3 linked regions of the Homo sapiens genome follow. The protein of the gene in region 1 interacts with the protein of each later gene in a pairwise test. Each region holds a gene or a part of one and is shown on either strand. Other genes may lie near its edges.

The links. The genes of interacting proteins can lie anywhere in the genome.
Region 2: the proteins of MPP1 (region 1) and SLC35E1 interact in binary tests that used the Homo sapiens proteins (3 or more experiments, as listed by UniProt).
Region 3: the proteins of MPP1 (region 1) and ZNF639 interact in binary tests that used the Homo sapiens proteins (3 or more experiments, as listed by UniProt).

Annotation. Positions count from the first base shown.
Region 1 is NC_000023.11:154,781,460-154,788,795, reverse strand, and holds part of MPP1 (55 kDa erythrocyte membrane protein), read left to right. Parts: intron 1-2,395; coding exon 2,396-2,592; intron 2,593-3,638; coding exon 3,639-3,745; intron 3,746-4,687; coding exon 4,688-4,768; intron 4,769-5,288; coding exon 5,289-5,369; intron 5,370-6,993; coding exon 6,994-7,196; intron 7,197-7,336. UniProt on the Homo sapiens protein: Essential regulator of neutrophil polarity. Regulates neutrophil polarization by regulating AKT1 phosphorylation through a mechanism that is independent of PIK3CG activity.
Region 2 is NC_000019.10:16,562,296-16,569,631, reverse strand, and holds part of SLC35E1 (solute carrier family 35 member E1), read left to right. Parts: intron 1-1,462; coding exon 1,463-1,600; intron 1,601-2,974; coding exon 2,975-3,100; intron 3,101-7,336. UniProt on the Homo sapiens protein: Putative transporter.
Region 3 is NC_000003.12:179,318,405-179,326,150, reverse strand, and holds the start of ZNF639 (zinc finger protein 639), read right to left. Parts: upstream 3,121-7,746; 5' UTR 2,860-3,120; intron 2,806-2,859; exon of another isoform or gene 1,890-2,805; intron 1,202-1,889; exon of another isoform or gene 1,158-1,201; intron 1,110-1,157; exon of another isoform or gene 829-1,109; intron 1-828. UniProt on the Homo sapiens protein: Binds DNA and may function as a transcriptional repressor.

The DNA.
Region 1 (7,336 bases):
CATTCACCAAACAGGATCTAATTCAGCAATATGAGAAGATTTACTGCCTGAAGGGCAATAAATTCACCACGTTAACAGAAAAATGGAGAAAAATCATATGATTTTTGTGCATGTGTTTTGTGGATACATCTATGCCTTTCTTTTGAGAGTAGAATTGCCAGGTTGTAGGATATATGTGTCTTCATCTTTAGGTGATATTGCCAAATAGTATTCCAAAGTTGGTGAACCATGTTACATCCCCAACTGCACAGTATGACAGTTCTGGTTGTTCTGTATTCTCACCAATACTTAGCATTGTCTGATTTGTTGGGTTTTTTTTCACCCTTTGGCCATCCTGATGGTGGTATCACATTGTGATTCTAAAAATTCTCTAATGACTAATGAGGGTAAACTCCTTTTTATATGTTTTTTTCCACTTGGATATCCTCTTTTGTAAGATACCAATTCAAGGCTTTTCTTACTGATTTGTAGCAGTTCCTCATATATTCTGGATAAGAGTCCTTTGTCATATGCATCCCAAGTATGTTCTCTTCTTCTGTGGCTTATTTTCTTCATGGTTCCTGTTAATGACTAGAAACTCTTAATTTTAATGAAATCCAATCTACCACTTTTTTCTGATTAGCACTTTTTATGTCTTGTTTTAAAAGTTTTTACTTACCACAAGGTCAACAAGATATTCTCCTGTGTTTTCTTCTAAATGCTTACTTGTTTGATTTTTCACATTTGGATCCACAACCCATCTGGGATTGATTGTTATATACATTGTAAGGTAAGAGGTCAAGATTCCAGTTTTTCCATATGGATACCAATTGAACCAGTATCATTTACTGTACACTGTCACTTTTGTCATGGTAATATTTACAGGTCTATTTTGGAACTTTTTATTCTTTTCTTTTGGACTGTTTGTTTATCCCTGTGTCAAACCTACATATCAGTTTGGATAAAAGAGGCATCTTCACAGTATCCCAGTGGAAGTGATGATAGCAGACATCTTTGTTTATTTTTCCATCTTAAAGGGAAAGCTGGCCAGGTGTGGTGGCATGCGCCTGTAATCCTAGCACTTTGGGAGGCCGAGGCGGGTGGATTGCTTGAGCCCAGGAGTTCGAGACCAACCTGGGTAACATAGCAAGACCCATGTCCTTTGAAAAAGGCAGGGAAAGCTTTTAATCTTTCACTGAGAAGTATGACGTTGGATGTAGGGTTTCTGTAGGTATTCTTTCTCACAGTAAAGAACCTCCCTTCTATTCCAAGTTTGCTAAGAATTTTAATCTTGAATGGGTTTTGAATGTTATCACAGGCTTTTTCTGCATCTATTGAGGGGATCATATGATCTTTTTCCATTTTTATGTTAACGTGGTGAATTTATTGCCCTTCAGGTAGTAAACCTTCTTATATTGCTGAACTAGATCCTGTTTGGTTGTGATTTATTATACTTTTTATACATAACTAAATTTGACTTGCTGATATTTTGTTTGGGGTTTTTACATCTCTGTTGCAGAGAGAAATTATAAGATTCTTGTCAGATTTGGGTATCATGCTTATAATGAGTTGGGAAGTGCCATCATTTTCTATAATCTGTTTTCGTATGAGATTAGCCTTCTTTCTTCAAATGATGCTTGGAAAATTTGTCAATGAAGTAATGAGGTAGGTGTGTGTGTGTGTGTGTGTGTGTGTGTGTGTGTGTGTGTGTGTGTTTGGGAGCAGGAGAGGAGAATTTTCAATAATAAATTCAAGTTCTTTGATAGATATGAGTGTCCATATTTTCAATTGTGAAAACAGTTGTTCAAAGAGTAGCTGCCCTGTACTGAGACAGACGACCCAGATCCAGCAGTAACTGTGGACACGTTGACGTGGAAAGATATCTCATGCCTTCTTTTTTTTTTTTTTTTTTTTTTTTTTTGAGACGGAGTCTCACTCTGTCGCCCAGGCTGGAGTGCAGTGGCACAATCTCGGCTCACTGCAAGCTCCACCTCCCGGGTTCAAGCGATTCTCCCGCCTCAGCCTCCCGAGTAGCTGGGACTACAGGTGCACGCCACCACACCCAGCTAATTTTTGTATTTTTAGTAGAGACGGAGTTTCACCATGTTAGCCAGGCTGGTCTCCAACTCCTAGCCTCATGTGTTCCACCCGCCTCGGCCTCCCAAAGTGCTGGGATTACAGGCGTGAGCCACTGCGCCTGGCTTCTCATGCCTTCTTGTTAAAGGGATTCATTCTGACCCCTCCGCAAACACAATCACTTCAGCGTTTCAATTTCTCTTTCTTGGGTGCTCCCCCACCATTCTTACCTCCCTGTTGTTCATTCCATCCTGACCCCATTTGTCTACAGCAGGACATGCTCTGATGCTGGTGTTTCTTTTGAAGCTGCCGCCTGCAGTTCCTTTTACCTTCTTTTTAGATGTTCATGAGAGCGCAGTTTGACTATGATCCCAAAAAGGACAATCTGATCCCTTGCAAGGAGGCGGGACTGAAGTTTGCTACTGGGGACATTATCCAGATTATCAACAAGGATGACAGCAATTGGTGGCAGGGACGGGTGGAAGGCTCCTCCAAGGAGTCAGCAGGATTGATCCCTTCCCCTGAGCTGCAGGAATGGTGAGCCATTTTTGTGCAGGTGGAAGGGCCATGTGCCTGCCACAAATAACTTAGCTTCAGAAAATCTGTCATTTTGTTTGTAGTTTCTGTTTCTCAACCAAGGAGACCTCCTAGATTTCCTGGCATAATGGGTGGGGGAGGGTTAACCATGCGTTGATAAGCTGGACTGAGAGGCAACCACAGGCAAGGGAGCCCAAATAGCTCTTCATTCTTATGTGGGCCTCTTGCTTCCTTAAACGTTTTCCCCATAGTTACCAAGCACGTGACAGTGCTGGGACTGAGCCCTCCCTGGTCTCCTGTTTCCCAAGCTAGTGCGCTTCTACCAGCCATGCTGTTTCTGGGATTTCCTTGGAGTCCTGCAGAAAACAGTCGCATTTAAGTATGTGTCCTTTAGGCACATTCCTGGTACATGGAAGAAATAATTCCTGTCCCCGAGTCAGATTGCTCACTTAGTCCTGGTTACATCATAGGAATGGCAGAAAAATTCACAAAACAGTTCCAACTGATAAGACATCCAACACTGAGCCTCCCTCTGCCTGTGCAAACTTACCCCAGTGTAAAGATTACAACCATTGTGGGGTTGACACTGAATAGAAATATTAGAATATATTACATGTAGTAATACAAGTTATTGTTTTGTGAAGCAGTTGTTTTAGATATATATGTGGGGTGTGTGTATGTGTTTTGTTTATAGATGTATGTGCAATAATGGCTTGCAATGTACAGTGTATTTCTTAGAGTGAGGTAGGGTCATAAAGGTTTGAGACCTTTATGGTCTAGACCAAAGAAAGAGAGTTGTTTGTGGGTTGTGTCCAGAATGTGCTGACAGGTACTAGATGACACAGACTCAAGGAGCCAGGTCCCTGACTGAGGGCAGGGCACAGTGCAAGATGCACCAAACAGTGTATGGGGTGCTTTGCACACATTATCTCCCACTGTAATGGACACTCAGAGAGTGAAGGGGGTGCCATTAGAGACTGAGTGGCTGGGGGGGGTATGAGGGGAGGGGGAGGAAAGCTGACCCCTTGATTGTCTTTTCCTACCAGGCGAGTGGCAAGTATGGCTCAGTCAGCTCCTAGCGAAGCCCCGAGCTGCAGTCCCTTTGGGAAGAAGAAGAAGTACAAAGACAAATATCTGGCCAAGCACAGCTCGAGTAAGCTTTCTGAGCCTTCTTGCCCCAGGTTCCTGGCAGCATTCACGTGTTTCCCAGTCTCTGTAACCAGCAGAAAAGGGGAGGTGGTGCAGTGCGCAGCAGAAGGCGCATTCTACAGAAAGCATGTCATTTCTTCTGGTTTCTTTTTATTGAATCCATCTTCACAAGCTTGCTGCAGTCAGGCCAGTGGATGTAAAGGAGGACTAGTGGTGAGCCCACACCTGCTCATCACCCCACCCCTCACACAGAAGTAGATGTGGTGGGAGAGGGGAAGTGAGGCAAGAACACAGGCCAGAGGGAGAGGCCAGGGCCAGGTCATAGGGAGCTTCGTGCACCCTCCCTAGCGTTTTAAATTTTGCACTATAGACTGTGGAGCTGGTGAAGGGTTTTGAGCAGAGAATTCGCACGGTCAGCTTTCCATCTGCATTTCTCTTTTCTGAGACGTCACGTGCACACCACCAGCCAGGGAATGATCGTGGCAGTCTTGGGTTGTAGGCAGGTAAGGGGGTGGAGAGTCAGGATGACACCAGGTCTCTATCTTGAGCAGCTGGGTCAATAGCACCACCATCTTCTAAGATAAGGGACATTCAGGCAGAACCGAGATAGCATTGGCATTCTTCAGCTCTAAGTGCCAAGGGAACATCTGATACTGAAACTATGGAGAAGAGATGAGGACAGGAGACAAGAAAAGTTGGCTCAGAGAGATAGGGCAAGGAGGAAGAGAGGGTGCAAAAGTTAGATAAACTCCCTTGCTCAAAATTCCCTCACCACACTAAAAATACAGTCCAAAGTCCTTCCTCCACACCAACCTCCCTCGTCTCATCTCTAGTCACTTCCTCCCTGCTTGTTGAGATGTCGCGAGGCTGTTTCCCATTTCAGAGTGTGGACCACTGTTCTCCCTAGCTCTGGAAATGAACACTGCTTGGTTTTCTTTGTCTCTAGTTTTTGATCAGTTGGATGTTGTTTCCTACGAGGAAGTCGTTCGGCTCCCTGCATTCAAGAGGAAGACCCTGGTGCTGATCGGTATCTTCTCATTGCCCCATTTGCACATTTCTGTCTTTGTTTTCCTGCCTGCATCACGTGCCCACCCCCAAAAAAGGCAGTGAGGAAGAAAAGAACTGAGGTCTCTTGGGTTCTCCATATAGAGCAGGTGTAAGGAATTTTCTGAATCCTCACGTGCACCCCACCTGGGTCCACCTCACAAATGAAACTAAACCTTACAAGTTTCTCTACTATTTAGCAACGAATTATTTTTGGTTAGGTTTCATGCTGTCTGCTGGCAGTGATACGCTTTGTAAATCTCCCTTCCCCCAAGCAGTGACTCTGACCTGAAACAGAGTAAGTCCTTGCTTCAAACCCAGGTATGTAGGCTTTGCCTCTGGCGGACTGCTCACCTTCCTGTCTTTAGAGTTGACCCCAGCCCAGATGCAACCCCAACTCATGTTCACCTGTTGGCAGTTTTGAGTGCCGAGAGAGGAAAATCCGTATCTTATCCTCGCTCCTCTCCCCCCTTTCCAAAAGATGTTCTTCTCTCTCTACACAGGAGCCAGTGGGGTGGGTCGCAGCCACATTAAGAATGCCCTGCTCAGCCAGAATCCGGAGAAGTTTGTGTACCCTGTCCCATGTAAGTAGCTCTTAGGCACCTTGGAGGGGAGGTGACAGGCTGGTACCACTCGCCATCTGAAATACCATAGTGTTATTTTATTATTTTTTAAATTATTTTATTTTAAATGATTATTAAAACTAAACAAAATATGGAAAGATAAAAATTTGTGCCCACAATTCCTCCACCTAACAGAATAACTGTTTTCTTATTGTTATTCGTGCTGTTTGTCTACATAACAGAAGCTATAGTAAACATTTTGATACTGCCTTAAAAATTACTAAGTATTAAAGTTTATACATATAACTTTGTCATTTTACTTTTTAAACATTTTCTCATGTTCCTCTGCAATTTGCCTAATTCTCTTTGAGAACTATCCCACTCTTGATGTTCAGGCTGCCTCTCATTTTCATGGAATGTCTTCTAAATCAAAGCAGTGCCTAGGAAAGGCCCAAACGATCTCAACAGCAGTCCTAGATATGGAGAAGAGTAGCGCCAGTGATCAGGTGGAGAATTTGATAACTCTTCCATTCCCAGAAGTGATGCTGCATGGTATAGTTGTGTATGTTCCCAGAAAGAAATACGGTGATTCCTCACTTAATATTGTCAATAGGCTCTTCGAAGACTGTGACTTTAAGTGAAATGACATATAACAAGAACCAGTTTTTTTACTCATCAACAATACAATGAAATGAAGTTGAACTAAACCATGTTAGTCAACGACCAGCTGCATGTGATTTCACTTAAAGTCACATTTTCTAAGAACCTACTGATAATAATATTAAGTGAGGAATTACTGTACTGCTAAGCAAAATAGAAAACCAGATTCTAAACCTCATATTACTATTTTTTAATTCTTTCTTCATTTTGCTTTTTTACACATGGATCATTGAGAGTTGTCTCGTTGCTGGAGGGACATAAGAGTTATTCCAGTGTCACATTAGGAGCAGAAAGAGATGGCCCCAGGAGTGAGTGGGGAAGCAGAAATAACCAGTACAGGCTCCTCCTTCAAGAGAATCACATGTGGTTGTAGATTGAGGGGAAGGGGCCAGTTGAGAGACAAGTGTGATCCGGAAGGCAAAGGAGACAGTCAATGGAAGATGGAAAGAGGGGAGGTTGGGAGGATTGTGTTTCAAGCTACAATATCTGGAGCATATTTTACTGATTAGACAATTTATATGAGTAATAGAAAATAGTCCAACTTTTAACAACATGAGCTGAAACTAAACCAAAGTACTCTTCTTTCCAAGTCATGAAAAGGAAACCTTAAATATATTTCCAAGAAATCCTGACCATAGTCTGTAGATCTGTTTTTAAAATATTTTCCGCTATCTTCATTTCTAAGTTTCAATATTCCTAGATTTGGTAGTTTGAGAGATGTAACTTCATTTAGGGAAAATGATAATAGGAATTTTCTATGTTAGGCTTTGCCCCTTAAAAATTAAATGTGTCCTGGGCAGATGGAGGGATTTCCTGGTGTGCATCACTTTCTAGCATCAGCTCTTCAGGAGCCCACGGGAGGAACCCCTGTATTAAAGTCAATGCACCAAAGGCAGCTAGGGTTTCCATACAGACACCATGGTCCAAGCCCTCATGAAAGGGTGAGGACCTGGAGTTTGTCGGGGATTTGGGTTCTTGTACACAGATACAACACGGCCGCCAAGGAAGAGTGAGGAAGATGGGAAGGAGTACCACTTTATCTCAACGGAGGAGATGACGAGGAACATCTCTGCCAATGAGTTCTTGGAGTTTGGCAGCTACCAAGGCAACATGTTTGGCACCAAATTTGAAACAGTGCACCAGATCCATAAGCAGAACAAGATTGCCATCCTTGACATTGAGCCCCAGGTGGGTAGGCATGGAAGGGCAGGGACAGATGGGCTCAGCCACACAAGGGATGGCGAAGACAGTGCTCCTTGGGAATCTTCTGGGGGCTCAGGATTGCTTCAGCCTTTTAATGGGGTCAGCCTGGAACAAGAACAGTAGTA
Region 2 (7,336 bases), on another chromosome or scaffold:
TCAAGTGATCTGCCCTCCTCAGCCTCCCAAAGTGAAGAGTGTTCTTTGTAGGACAGGATTGAGCCGAGAGTCAGAAGAGCTGGACACGCGGGAATGGATCCTGGTGGATCCTGGAAGTTGGGAGTTGTTTAGCCCTGCATGCCAGACCTTCTAGAAGGCTCTCTGTCACTATGTTTGCTACTCGTTCATTCAGCTAGCAGCTATTGAGTGCCTACTGAGTGCTAGGCACCAGGATAAAGCAGTGAACAAGGACCTGCTCTAAGGTACACTAACGGGACCGGATGATGTAACAGACAGAGTGGGTGGAGAGGCTGGGCACGGTGGCCCACGCTTGTAATCCCAGCACTTTGGGAGGCCAAGGTGGGCAGATCACGAGGTCAAGAGATCGAGACCATCCTGGCCAACATGGCAAAACCCCATCTTTACTAAAAATACAAAAATTAGTTGGGCGTGGTGGTAGGCACCTGTAGTCCCAGCTACTCAGAAAGCTGAGGCAGAAGAATCGGTTGAACCTGGGAGGCAGAGGTTGCAGTGAGCCGAGATCATGCCACTGCATTCCATCCTGGTGACAGAGCGAGACTCCGTCTCAAAAAAAAAAAAAAAGAGTGAGTGGAGAGCTCTCTGCTGGGGAAGTCCAGGCAGTGGCCCTGGGAGCACAGCACAGGAGCCTCCCAAGGTGGAGGTGGGTTGGAGAAAGCACTCCTTGTGGAGGCAGGAGGTCACTGGGAGGAGAAGGCATCAGTGGAGTGTGCCAGCCAGGAGTAACCATACTGGAAGAGCCTGAAGTAAGAGGGAATGGGGGCTGGGCACAGTGGCTCACACCTGTAATCCCAGTACTTTGGGAGGCCAAGGTGGATGGATGACGTGGATCAGGCGTTCAAGACTAGCCTGGCTAACATGGCGAAATCCTGTCTCTACTAAAAGTACAAAAAAATTGGCCGGGCGTGGTGGCACATCCCTGTAATCCCAGCTACTGGGGAGTCTGAGGCAGGAGAATCGCTTGAACCCGGGAAGCAGAGGTTGCAGTGAGCCACGATTGTGCCACTACACTCCAGCCTGGGCGACAGAGCGAGACTTTGTCTCAAAAAAACTATTTTTTAAAAAGAGGGAATGGGGGAGCCTTATAGAGGATCAGGGCTTCAAACCCTGGTGCGTCAGTGGCAGCTGAACAGATCTGTGGAGTTAGGACCAGCCCCGGGCTGTGGCCCTGAGCAGAGGCTCTTAATGGGGGTGACGGTATGGGGATGGGGCTACCCACAAATAAGCCCTGCCCCTGGCGCTCTGATAACCACCTGCCCCCAGCCACCCACCAGAGCGTCACTGGCACAGCAAACACCACTTTCAAAGTGTTAGGTGGTATCCCTTTGCTGAGGGAGGAGAGGGGCTCTTCCCTGGGCATCTGTGGCATGTGGCCCAGCTCTAGTCTGGCCTGTGAGCCCTTCTTGATGACCTCTTCCTGCAGGTATACTTGTCACTCATCCCCATCATCAGCGGTGTCCTGCTGGCCACCGTCACCGAGTTGTCTTTTGACATGTGGGGACTCGTCAGCGCCCTCGCCGCCACGCTGTGCTTCTCGCTTCAGAACATTTTCTCCAAAAAGGTATTTGGTCACCATCAGCGGACATGCATGGGGTTTCAGGGGTGTGCGGGCAGCAAACTGGTGGCATTGGGAAAACAGGCGGAGTAGAAATTTCTTTGCTATTAGAGCAGAAAAATCTTGATTGCCATTCTGCTGATTTTCTGTTTGTCATTTTGCTTTTTAAATAGTTTGTTTTTCTGGCCGGGCGCAGTGGCTCATGCCTATAATCCCAGCACTTTGGGAGGCCAAGGCGGGCGGTTCACTTGAGGCCAGGAGTTCAACACCAGCCTGACCAATATGGCAAAACCCCATCTCTACTAAAAACATAAAAATTAGCCAGGCACGCATCTGTAATCCCAGCTACTCCAGACACTGAGGCACAAGAATTGCTTGAACCCAGGAAGCGGGGCTTGCAGTGAGCTGAGATTTTGCATCACTGCACTCCAACCTGGGCAAGAGTGAGTCTCCATCTCAAAAACAAAAAAAAGTTTTTCTATTATAAAGTTAATGTGCTCAATAAGAAAAAAATAAAGAAAAGCTCTTTTATTGAGACCAAGGCTCACTGTCGCCCAGGCTGGAGTGCAGTGGCACAATCATAGCTTACTGCAGCCTCAGTCTTCGAAGCTCAAGTGATCCTCACACCTCAGCCTCATAAAGCACTGGGATTACAGGCATTAGCCACCAGGCCTAGCTAAAAACTTCAATTTAAAACAAGATTTTAAAACTTGTTGAAGCCTAGTGCAGTGGCTCACATCTATAATCCCAGCACTTTGGGAGGCCAAGGCAGGAGGATCACTTGAGGCTAGGAGTTCGAGACCAGCCTAGGCAATAGGAATAGAGTGAGACCCCGTCTCAAAAAAAAAAATTGCTCTTAACTCCTGTGATAATCACACACTTTTCAGGTACCACAGTTAATGCAGTCTCTCTATTGGAAATACCACTTATTTCCAACTTTTCATTGTAATGTAGAAACAATCACGTGTGTGATGTTTTCCTGTCTCAGTTATTTCATTATGATAGGCTTACAGTTCTCAGGTTAGAGGGTATGAAACGTTAATCACTCTTAATATGGTTTGTCTGGTCGTATTTTAGAAAGGTTATACCAATTCAGCCTCAAACCAGTGGAATTTCAGAGTGCCTACTTCACTTCATCCTCACCAGCACTGAGTGTTACTGTTTTATTTTTGTTTTCTTTTCTCAGTCGTTTATGCGTGGAGCATGGTGCTTGTTTCAGGCCTGTGCTGTGTATGTCCTCACAAATGCACTTGCAGGTTTGGTGTCCAAGCTCAGATGTCAGGGTTAATGTCCAGTCACTGTGTTTGGGGCCTGAGTCACTGGAGCCCTTTTTGCCACATATAGTTTTAATCACCCTCTAAAGAGGCTTTCCCTTTCCAGGTCTTGCGAGATTCACGGATCCACCATCTCCGGCTGCTCAACATCCTGGGCTGCCACGCCGTCTTCTTTATGATCCCCACCTGGGTTCTGGTGGACCTCTCGGCTTTCCTGGTCAGCAGCGACTTGGTGAGTTGTACAGCACCAAGAACACGCCATTTTCTTGGCTAGTTCCAGAATAGGTGCTTTGTTGAGGAGCTGTAGCTGCATGTTAACATTGTGGTATCTTTTGGGCACCTGACAGCCAGCGCTTTCAGCAGTCAGTCCTCTGTAATGCCTCACGGTGACGATGCACGCCATCGAGGAAGTGGGTTTCCTGTGTATTTCCTTCTCTGGTGTGCTTGATCCCAGGTGCTGATAGCTGCTGTGTGTGCGCCAGTAGCGTCAAGGAAGAGAAGGTGACTCTTTCACCTCCTGACAGTATAGTCCAGATAGCACATTGACTTTTTATTTTTACTCATTTTTTATTTTAAATGTTTATTTTTTAGAGACAGAACCTCGCTCTGTTGCCAGGGCTGGAGTGCAGTGGCACAATCATGGCTCACTGCAGCCTTGACCTCAATCCGGGGCTCAAGCGATCCTCCCACAGCCTCCCGAGTAACTGGGACTGCAGGCGAATACCACCATGCCTGGCTAATTTTTTTTTGTTTGATTTTTGTTTTTTTACTGTTTTTGGAGAGACAGGGTCTCACTATGTTGCCCAGGCTGGTCCTGAACTCCTGGCGTTAAGAGATCTGCCTTGGCCTCCCAAAGTGCTGGGATTACAGATGTGAGCCACTGTGCCTTGCCAGCCCTGGAACTTTGAAAACTATGCACTGGCCAAAAAAAAAAAAAAAAAAAAAAAAAGCCGGGCGCAGTGGCTCACGCCTGTAATCCCAGCACTCTGGGAGGCCAAGGCGGGCGGATCACGAGGTCAGGAGTTTGAGACCAGCCTGGCCAATATGGTGACACCCTGTTTCTCCCAAAAATACAAAAATTAGCCAGGCATGGTGGCTCGCACCTGTAGTCCCAGCTACTTGGGAGGCTGAGGCAGAAGAATTGCTTGAACCCAGGATGTGGCGGTTGCAGTGAGCCGAGATGGTGCCACTGCACTCCAGCCTGGGTGACAGAGGGAGACTCCGTGTCAAAAAAAAAAGAAAAAAACATGCGCTGCCTGGGTGTGGTGGCTTACGCCTATAATCCCAGCACTTTGGGAGGCCAAGGTGTGTGAATCATTTGAGGTCAGGAGTTCGAGACCAGCCTGACCAATATGGTGAAATCCTGTCTCTACTAAAAATACAAAATTAGCCAGGCGTGGTGGTGCACGCCTGTAATCCCAGCCACTTGGGAGGCTGAGGTGGGAGAATCGCTTGAACCCAGGAGGCAGAGTTTGCAGTGAGCCGAGATCGCACCACTGCACTCCAGCCTGGGCAACAAGTGTGAAGCTCCGTCTCAAAAAAAAAAAAGAAAGAAAGAAAACTGTGCAGCTCAGTTCCTCCCTGGTCTCTGTTTCCATTTACTCCACGTCGAATCTTTTTGCCACCTGCAGGGTCTGCCTTCAGAGAATGTGTTATAAATGAATGCAAGTGCCTGCGGTGAGGAGGAGGCCAGTGCGATTCTTCCAGACTCGAGTTAGAAAGGAAAAGTAAATATTTATTGAGGTCTTAATGTGGTCTAGCTGGATTTGTGACATTTCTTATCTTTAATCCTTGGCTCCACCTGCTGAAGTAGTGGATATTACCTCTATTTTCCCAATCAGTAAACCATGGCTCACTTTTCTAACTTTCGTTTCACATTGATGAGCTGTAATTCTTCTGTGAAGAACTTTCCATCTTCCAGGACTAGTTTGTTACCTTGAAGTATGGTACGAGAAAGGCAGTTTAATGCTTAACTGTTCCTTTTGATGACTAATTTTCAGGATAGAGAGTTGGAGCTTACTCCAAATGTTGACCAGAGTTGAGGGTTTGTTTGGGGGTAGGGAAGGGGTTCTCTTTTTTTCTCCAGCATCATTGTGAACTTTTATGTGTTTGTCAGTTGCATGAATTATTCGTTTTCCTAGTCAAATTGTCCTGTCTTGGCCAGGCGCAGTGGCTCCAGCCTGTAATCCCAGCACTTTGGGAGGCCGAGGTGGGCAGATCACTTGAGGTCAGGAGTTCAAGACCAGCCTGGCCAACGTGGTGAAACCCCATCTCTACAGAAAATACAAAAATTTGCCAGGCATGGTGGTGCACGCCTGTAATCCCAGCTACTCAGGAGGCTGAGGCAGGAGAATTGCTTGAACCTGGAAGGCGGAGGTTGCGGTGAGCTGAGATCGTACCACTGCACTCCAGCCTGGGCGACAGAGCGAGACTCCATCTTAAAAAAAAAGAAGAAAAAAAAATTGTCCTGTCTTAGCCATTGGAGCCCTTCTGATTGGCTCCTTGCCCTTCTAGCACTGTGGGTCAGCGTTTCTCCCAGCGGGATGCCCGCCTTCACCTTGTGTACTTCCCATCCCAGAGCTGCAGTCAGCCCCTCCTTCAGGACTCCAGGTGCCGTTAGTGGGGAGCGGTATTTAGAGACACAATCCAGGTGCCATGGGTGCTTTTTGCTGCTGGGTGGTCATTGTTGTTAGGCCTTTACTGTGAAAAATTAGGAAGTACACACTTGGGGCAGCAGCAAAGAGTTCCTAGCAATTAGCGTCACTTTCAGTTGAACAGTCCAGATCTTTGCTGTTTTGAATTTCATATTTAGATCTCGTCGCTGGTATGCTTGGTTCCGCTCCTCGTTTCTTAGTTGCTTATTCTACCCGTTATTCACTGATGTTATTCTACTGTACACTCACTCATATAATTGCTTCAGAATGAGCATTCTCACAGCACAATTGCAACTGGAGTGCTGAGAAAAGGTTAGTATTTCTTTGCAGGCTGGGTGTGGTGGCTCACACCTGGAATCCCAGCACTTTAGGAGACCGAGGTAGGTGGATCCCTTGAGGCCAGGAGTTCGAAACCAGCCTGGCCAACGTGGGGAAACCCCATCTCTAGAAAAAATATAAAAATTATCTGGTGTGGTGGCGTACGCCTATAATCCTAGCTACTAGGTAGGTGGAGGTTGCAGTGAGCTGAGATCACGACACTGCACTCCAACCTGGGTGACAAAGTGAGACTGTCTCATAAAAATAAAAAAAAAGAAGAAGTCTGGTCATGATTCCTGTACTCTCCCTGTCCCCTCCCTGACCATGGATAACATTTCTTAGGCTCCTAGTTCACCTGTTCCATATTTTTGCAAATATAAGCAAATTTGCATGTATAATCACCCTCTGTCCTTATTACACACAGAGTAGCTTTTTATTTTATTATTTTATTTTATTTTATTTTATTTTTTGAGACGGAGTTTTTCTGTCTCCTAGGCTAGAATGCAATGGCATGTTCTCGGCTCACTGCAGCCTCCGCCTCCCGGATTCAAGCAGTTCTCCTGCCTCAGCCTCCCGAGTAGCTGGGACTACAGACACCCACCACCGCGCCCAGCTAATTTTTTGTGTGTTTTTACTAGAGGTGGGGTTTCTCCATTTTGGCCAGGCTAGTCTCAAACTCCTGACATTAGGTGATCCACCCACTTCGGCCTCCCAAAGTGCTGGAATTATAGGCGTAAGCGACCACGCCCAGCCCAAAAAGTAGCTTTTTAAATTTACAGGTCAGGCACAGTGCCTCACACATGTAATCCCAGTATTTTGGAAGGCAGAGGCAGGCAGACTGCTTTAGCCTCAGGAGTTTGAGACCAGCCTGGTCAACATGGTGAAACCCCGTCTCTACGTAAAACAAAACCAAAAATTAACCCGGCATGGTGGCACATGCCTGTAGTCCGAGCTACTTGGGAGCCTGAGGTGGGAAGATCACTTGAGCCCGGGAAGGTCAAAGCTGCAGTGAGCCATGTTTGAGCCACTGCACCCCAGCCAGCATGACAGAGCAAGACCCTATCTCAAAAATAAATATAAACATACAGTCATCCTTCCATATCTGTGGGTTCCACACTAGTGGATTCAGCCAACTGCGAATTGAAAATATATGGTAGAAAAACAAAATACTATAATAAAGAATAAGACATTTTAAAATAATACAGTATAACAATTATTTGTATAGCAGTTTTATTGTATTAGGGATTACAAGTAATCTAGCGATGATTTCAAGTATATGGGAGGATGTGCATGGATTACATGCAAATACTAAACCATTTTATAAAAGGGACTTGAATATCTGTAGATTTTGGCATCCGCAGGGGTCCCTAGAACCAGTCCTCCGTGGATACTGAAGGGGAGCTGAACTATTCTGCACCTTGTTCATTTCATCTCATCGTCCCAGAGAGCTCTTCATAACGACATAGAAGGCCTTTCTCATTTCTTGTACGGCTGTG
Region 3 (7,746 bases), on another chromosome or scaffold:
CTATGTTAGCCAGGCTGGTCTTGAACTCCTGACCTCAAGTGATCCGCCCACCTCAGCCTCCCAAAGTGCTGGGATTACAGGCACGAGGCACCGCGCCCGGCCTATAATGCTCTTAACACCAAGGTGATACACATGACAGGTGTTCTAGCTGAGGTGCACATACTATTTTTGCTGCTTCACTAAGTTCTGGGTATATCAGCACTGAAGTGATATAATACAGCAGGGAATGAGATAGTGCTTTTTCAGTTTATTTTATTTTTACTTTTTTTTCGGACAGAGTCTCGCTCTTTCGCCCAGGCTGGAGTGCAGTGGCGCTATCTTGGCTCACTGCAAGCTCCGCCTCCCGGGTTCATGCCATTCTCCTGCCTCAGCCTCCCAAGTAGCTGGGACAACAGGCGCCCGGCTAATTTTTTGTATTTTTAGTACAGACGGGGTTTCACCGTGTTAGCCAGGATGTTCTCGATCTCCTGACCTCGTGATCTGCCCGCCTCGGCCTCCCAAGGTGCTGGGATTACAGGCGTGAGCCACCGCGCCCGGCCTTTTCAGTTTATTAAGCATTTTCCTAACCCTTATTCTATTTCATCTTCAAAATGGTCCTGTGCGGTACATGGAGGAGTTACTATCAAACCCATTTACATTTTTACTGATGTGGAAACAGCCTTAGTGAAAGTTAAGTCAACTAATAAGTGGGAGAACCAGAGATGAAAATGCATGCACATCTTGCTTCCAGTTCTTAGCTACCAGTTGGGAGAAGGGGAACAGAATAGCCTAAAGAAACAGACAACCATGAAATGTACAGAAATGATACCAATATATAAAATACCTCACCTCGCCGGGTGCAGTGGTTCACGCCTGTAATCCCAGCACTTTGGGAGGCCGAGGCGAACAGATCACCTGAGGTCGGGAATTCAAGACTAGCCTGACCAACATGGGGAAACCCCGTCTCGACTGAAAATACAAAATTAGCCGGGCGTGGTGGCACATGCCTGTAATCTGAGCTACTCGGGAGGCTGAGGCATGAGAATCGCTTGAATCCGGGAGGCGGAGGTTGTGGTGACCCGAGATCACATCATTGTCCTCCAGCCTGGGTAACAGGAGTGAAACTCTGTCTAAAAAAGAAAGAAAGAAAGAAAAAAGAATAAAATCAAACGCCTCACCTAACAATGTAAACAATCATTCCTTGAGTAACCATCTCAATTCACTGCATTCAAAAATCAAAAAGAGAAGAGCTATTACGATTCATATAGCCCAAAGCTTCACACTTCATGTTCTAAATACTCTAAAAGTATCAGGGAGAACACTGAAAACACTCAGCCGAACATGTTAAGTAGTCTCTTGTTATTTCAGAATGCATCTCAAGTTCTTTGCAACTTGAAGAATAAAAGTAAGAAAAGGAAACCAAGCGTGGTATTAAAATCAACGTTGCAAGCTGGCCTGGATTCAGGCTGTTAGGTGAGAGGAGGAGGCACACGGATCAGGAAGGGTCTGACTCCTACTTAGGGCCGAACGATAACCAAATGTCTATCGGACTTCCTTTCAGCACAATGGTGATGCCTACTCAAGACCAAAAATGCTAACCATCCTTCATTTTAGCAATCATTTTTATGTGCCTTTTGTGTGCATAACAGCCTTGAAAAAACTTAGCTTTCTACTCAAGGATGTCATAAACATTTGCTCACTAGTCTTCTTAGCAGGAAGATTCTGAATCACAAGCAACCTATCACAGTCCCCCCTCCCTCTGAAATACAAACGACATATGTAACACGTGTCACTGCAGAAAAATCAGAAAAATGTTTAAAAATTTTTTATATCACCTAGAAACCAACATCTTTCCACCTGTCATTTTTTTCAACCAACAAGAAAGTCTATGCACAAAATAGAATACATACAACAGGCAGTCAGCAATCATCAAATAGATAAACGTTTCAAAAGGCCTTTCATGCAATGTATATTCTTCCTAATTGCTGTAAGACGTCTTTACAGTAAATAACTCCATTTTTAACGAGTTTAAAAAGAGTTAAGCTTTCTTTTTCGTTCTCATTAAAATAAGCATATGCTTTAAATTGTAAAAGAATTGAAACAAAAACATGTTGCAGGAGAGCCTGAACTAGAATCCACTACATGTCCAACGTGGAGGCAGTCTTTACTGCAATATCACACGGTCACTAAATACTTGATTCGCTATTTTTCAGTCCGGCATAAATCTTTCTCTTCGAAAAAAACAAAAAAGGCATAAACTGCTTCAAATGATTCGTTTCCCTAGACAGTACTTAAAGACAAAACCAAAAAAGGGGGTTTCTAAGCACCGTCACACGAGTGAGGCGACTCTCAGGCTGGAGGCTTTGGGCGCCAGCATCGACGCCTGCTCTCCGCGGCTACAACTCGTTGCGCGAGCCCGGGGATTCGCCGCCGGAGGTCACGAAGCCGCCGGGCAGGGCCGCAGCGCCAGCGAGGACCCAGGATCGTCCCGAGCCCGGACGCAGCCAGACAAATGCCCGTCGGAGGCGCAGGGCAGAAGTCCCTGGGACTTAGCCGCCTCCACCCCGGCGCCACGCACCAGCTTCGCCCGGGCCCAGAAGCCGGCGCCAAGGAGACTTCCAAGCCCCGACACCAAAGGTTCCGTAAAGACAACGGCAGCAGGGGGCCGAGGGGAGCCCGGCCAAGGCGTCCTGCGCAGGGGGTGGAACTGCCTTCGGGATGGGGGAGGGGAACGCCATCCCGCCATATAACGAAGGCAGAGTTTCCGTATAAAGGGAGCTCCGGTCTCTCCCGCCCTCTCCCGTTAGAAGATGCGCCCGCACGCCCGCGTCCCCTGGAGCAGTCCAGCGCCCGACCCACCCGCTCCTCCCTCACACTCACCAGTCAGTCCCCCGAGGCCCTCCCGGCCGGCCCACGCAGAGGCGGCGGCGGCCGAGAGCGCAGGCGGAGGGGCCGCGCGGTCCTTCCCGCGGACGCACGGCGGCGGGCAGCGCTGCTCCGGCCCTAGCGCTCCCGGACGCTGTGCTGGGCCGACCCCTCTCCCTCCCCGCGCGCCCCACGCCCTGAGCGCCAGGCCCCTGGCCTAGGCTCCGCGGCCGCACTGCCCTGGCCGCCACGCTCCGCGCCTGCGCCGCGCACCTCAGGGGCCCGCCGAGAGGGCGGGGAGGTGACGAGGTGAGGTGGGGGCAGGGAGCGGGCTGCGCGAACGCACCGCACACGCGGCCTGGGAGGGACCACCGGCCCGCAGCCCCGGGGGAGGCCCAGCGGCCCGCGCCCCCTGCCGGAGGCCTTGCGCCGCCGCAGTCTCCTTCTGGGCGGGGAAGAGCCCCTCCCGAGCCCCGAGGGCGATCCCACCCTCTAGGATTACTCCACGCCAGGCGGCCAGCGAATTTATCCCGCCCGCCTCCACCGCCCCTTCAAGCCCTGGGGAACTGGGAGAAACGTGGCGCGCAGCGGCACCTTTCCCACGCTGCTCCTCAAGGGAAAGGACGCGAGTGGTCTTGCCCAGGTTAGGCAAGGCAGATGGCATCTCAGACCCCGAAGTGTGCCAGCCGCCTGTTGGGGACAGAGAGGCCGAGGACCTCGTCACGGTTTTACTGAGGCCACACCAGAGAACCACCTAGGGCTAGGATGCTGCCCTCAGGGCAAGAGGGTGAAACCTGAAGACTGCGAGTCGTTGTTGAGTTTCACCCGATTCCTTGGCTCGAGAAATAGTGGAATGAATGAGGAGTTAAGGGGGACTGGACTCGACGATTTAAGTCCTTTCTCGACTTTGACTTTCTTTGAGCAGCTGTAGAAATGATTAAATTACACGAGCATAAATAAATTTGTGAACATGGTTCCATAAATGATCTCTGTGCAAGTGTGGTGATATGTTTAATTCAGTCCTTTTGACAATGAGTTGAGGTTTTTAGTCACATTTTACAAAATGGAAAAGTAAATGTGTGAGAAGCTAAAGACTGGGTCTTAATTCATTTTGGTAGCCTAAACCCCTGAGGTTCAAACGGTTAAGAGGATGACTGAGAGCCATGTGGATTATCAGGTACCCAAGGTCACTCGGATAGTTAGGGCTGCAATGATGTCTCTTTGTTCACGTCCACTGCTTTTTCTGACAACCACATGCCAATCAACCAATCAATCGCTGGAAAGTAATAATCACAGACTTTACTCTGATCCCTTCACCATCCCCCAGGAGATAAAGCTATATTTGAAAGAGACACTACTTGTTTGTGAGGCTCAGTTTTTATGACCTCCTAAGTTTTATGTGCGTACTCAGCTCAAATAAATGCTCACGAATGCTAGTATGGCCCGAATTAAAGTTCGAAGAAATGTAGAGACATTTTTAAATCCTAGAATAGTTAGTATCTAGCACAGAACCGGGAATCGGTGGAAACCACAAGGGGGTGTCATGCCACCATCTTACCATTTTGCCTTACCACATAGCCTTGTGTCCAACAAAATCTTTATATTTCAAAATGAAGTTTTACTCCAAAACATTTTGTAGTGAAAGTAAACGCACACTCTCCCCAGCATCCCACGTATTGTTTGCACTTAGAGGAGCTTGACTTTGTTTAGATGTTGTTTAACATAGTCACAAATTGCAAGCAATTTCAAGTTCTTGATTAGCTGGAGTGTTTTTCAGTTTCATTTTTGGGTCCCTCTTTTCCTCATCTCCCGCTCCAAGGGAGGGTGATAGCTGGGATAAAACCCTAAAATCTCAAGAGTGCTAAATTGTAGAGTTTGTTAAATACTATTATAAATTTGATTCAGGGCTATTAAAACATCGTTCTTCCAACTTTTTCACACACTTGTAGAATAGCTTAATTTCTCCTTCCTTTCCTTCCTTCCTTTTCTTTTTTTTCTTTTTTCTTTCTCACGGTCTCACTCTGTCGCCCAGGCTCCAGTACAGAGATGGGATATCGGCTCACTGCAATCTCCACCTCCTAAATTCAAGCAATTCTCGTGCCCCACCCTTCAGATTAGCTGAGATTACAGGCGCGAGCTGCCACACCTGGCTAATTTTTGTATATTTAGTGGTGCTGAGATTTCACCATATTGGCCAGGCTGGTCTTGAGCTTCTGGCATCAAGTGATCCGCCCGCCTTGGCCTCCTAAAGTGCTGGGATTACAGGCGCGAGTCACCGCGCCCGGCCACTTAATTTCTTCCTGATTAGAAAATAGTTACGTTTTTAGTACAGAATGGAGACAACAGAAAAGTACAAAGAGCAAAAGTAAATTTACCATAATCTCACAACCCTGAGCTCATCAATGGTAACATTTTGCTTTCTATCTTTCCGTTATTTTTATACCTATACTGACATAAAAATTTGTTTTCAAAATTAGAATATTGGCTGTGTTTTTTTCTAACAGGTTCTTTTTTCCAATTAGTATAGCACGAGCATTCTTTATGTTTTTTGTTTGTTTGTTTGTGTGTTTTTGAGACAGAGTCTTGCTCTTTCGCCCAGGCTGGAGTGCAATGACGTGATCTTGGCTCACTGCAACCTCCGCCTCCCAGATTCAAGCGATTCTCCTGCCTCATCCTCCGAGTAGCTGGGATTACAGGCGCGTGGCACCACACGGGGCTAATTTTTGTATTTTTAGTAGAGACGGGTTTCACCATGTTGGCCAGGCTGGTCTCAAACTCCTGACCTCAGGTGATCCGCCCACCTCGGCCTCCGAAAGTACTGGGATTACAGGCGTAATTGCAGTTTGTTGTTTTTTAATTTTGTTAGTGGTGCAAACATTTTAAATTGTAGTGAAAGCAAGTCTATTAATCTTTTCCTTTGCAAGTTCTATTTTTGGCCTTTTGCTGAGATAATCTTTTCTTCTATGCAGGATCTGGTTGCATTTTTTGCTTTAACTTTTTCGTTTGTCTACAATTTATTTTGGGATATGGGATGAAGAGAACTGGGTAAATCTGGACTAGGGCCTGAGTAGCTGCAGTTCTAACAAATTTCCTTTCGAAGTCCATGCTGCTGGCCTGTGATCACGTCTGGAGAACCACTATCCTAAGTCTTTCCTCACCCAACCCCACACTAACCATATAGTATTTCTCACTATTCCACAGATACGCTCTGCCTTTTTCTCACTTGTGTGATCTAGCACGTTTCTTCCACCTGCAATTTGTTTCCTTTGTTTCTGTAAGATGAAGCTCACAGTTGATCTCTTCTATGAAACCTTGATTTTCCCTTGCCGAAATCTCTGACCAATCTTTAGAGATTCCACAGTAGTTAGTACATTTGTCCACTTCTCCCCAGAGATGGAGTTACTGTGAAGTTACTGAAGCTTAAATTTCAAGTCCCTTCAATTGCATGAACCTCTTCCAGGACCACGTGCTTAATTTTGTATTATTTATTTTGAGACAGAATCTCACTCTATCGCCCAGGCTGAAGTGCAGTGGTATGATCTCGGCTCTCTGCAACCTCCTCCTTCTGGGTTCAAGCGATTCTCGTGACTCAGCTTCCCAAGTAGCTGGGACTACAGGTGCGCACCACGATGCCTGGCTAATTTTTGTATTTTTAGTAGAGACGAGATTTCACCATGTTGGCCAGTCTGGTCTCAAACTCCTGACCTCAAGTGATCCACCCACTTCGGCCTCAGCAAAGTGCTGGGATTACAGGCATGAGCCACCACACCCAGCCTGTATTAAAATTTTATATTATTTTTCTCAAATTGATCTTCCCAGTTTGCATAAGCGTCTGCCCTTGCAAAATTTGGCTCCATCTGTTCATCATGTTGTCTCTCCACGGACCCTAAGTTCCAGTTTTATTATCTTCCAATCTGCTCCATTTCCCTGCTTAGCACAGTATCTTGCATACAGCCTCATTCATTTCTTTCAGTAGAATATTCATTGCATATCTACCTTGTGTTCAGCACTGTACTAGATACTGGCAATACAGTGTGAGCAAGATAGACATGGTCATTGGTCTCCTGGTCCTTACAGTTGAGTAGGGAATATGGGCAATTATACAACACTGGAATGTAATTAGTAAACTTACATAGTGCAGGTATGGGAACACATGACACATGGCCTAGCTTGGTATTCTGTTTGTCGAATGAATTGATAAACTCTGTCATGGTTACCTAGTCAGCTAACACTAGTGCACACCTAAGGGACACGCTTCTGACTCAGGCATGAGGTGGCTGCATGCAAAAGTCTCAAGTTAGTCATCTCACATACTCAACAGAGCCATCTGAGCTCCAAAATTCCAAGCCACCCTTACACAGGTACAAGGACTAAATTTATACATTTCTTTTTTGAAAGCACTACAGGCCAGGTATGGTGGCTCACACCTGTAATCTCAGCACTTTGGGAGGCCAAGGCAGGCAGGTCACTTGAGTGCAGGAATTTGAGATGAGCCTGGGCAATGTGGCAAAACCCTGTCTCTACAAAAAAACAAAAAACACAAAAAATTAGCCACGTGCCTGTAGTCCCTACTCAGGAGGCTGAAGTAAGAGGATCTCTTGAACCCAGGAGGTCAAGGCTGCAGTTAGCTGTGATTGTACCACTGTACTCTAGCCTGGGTAACAGAGTGAGACCCTGTCGAAAAAACAACAACAAAAAAGCAGTCCAACAAAGCCCAAATCTGGCCGTTCCAGTCAACACACTCAGACAATTTGCTTTCCTAAAATGGGACAGGGAAAGTGTTTTGGTTGTAAAAGATCTAGCCTATTTCTCCATTTTTTTTTTTTTTTTGAGATGGAGTTTTGTTCTTGTTGCCCAGGCTAGAGTGGAATGGCACGATCTTGGCTCACCTCAACCTCCACC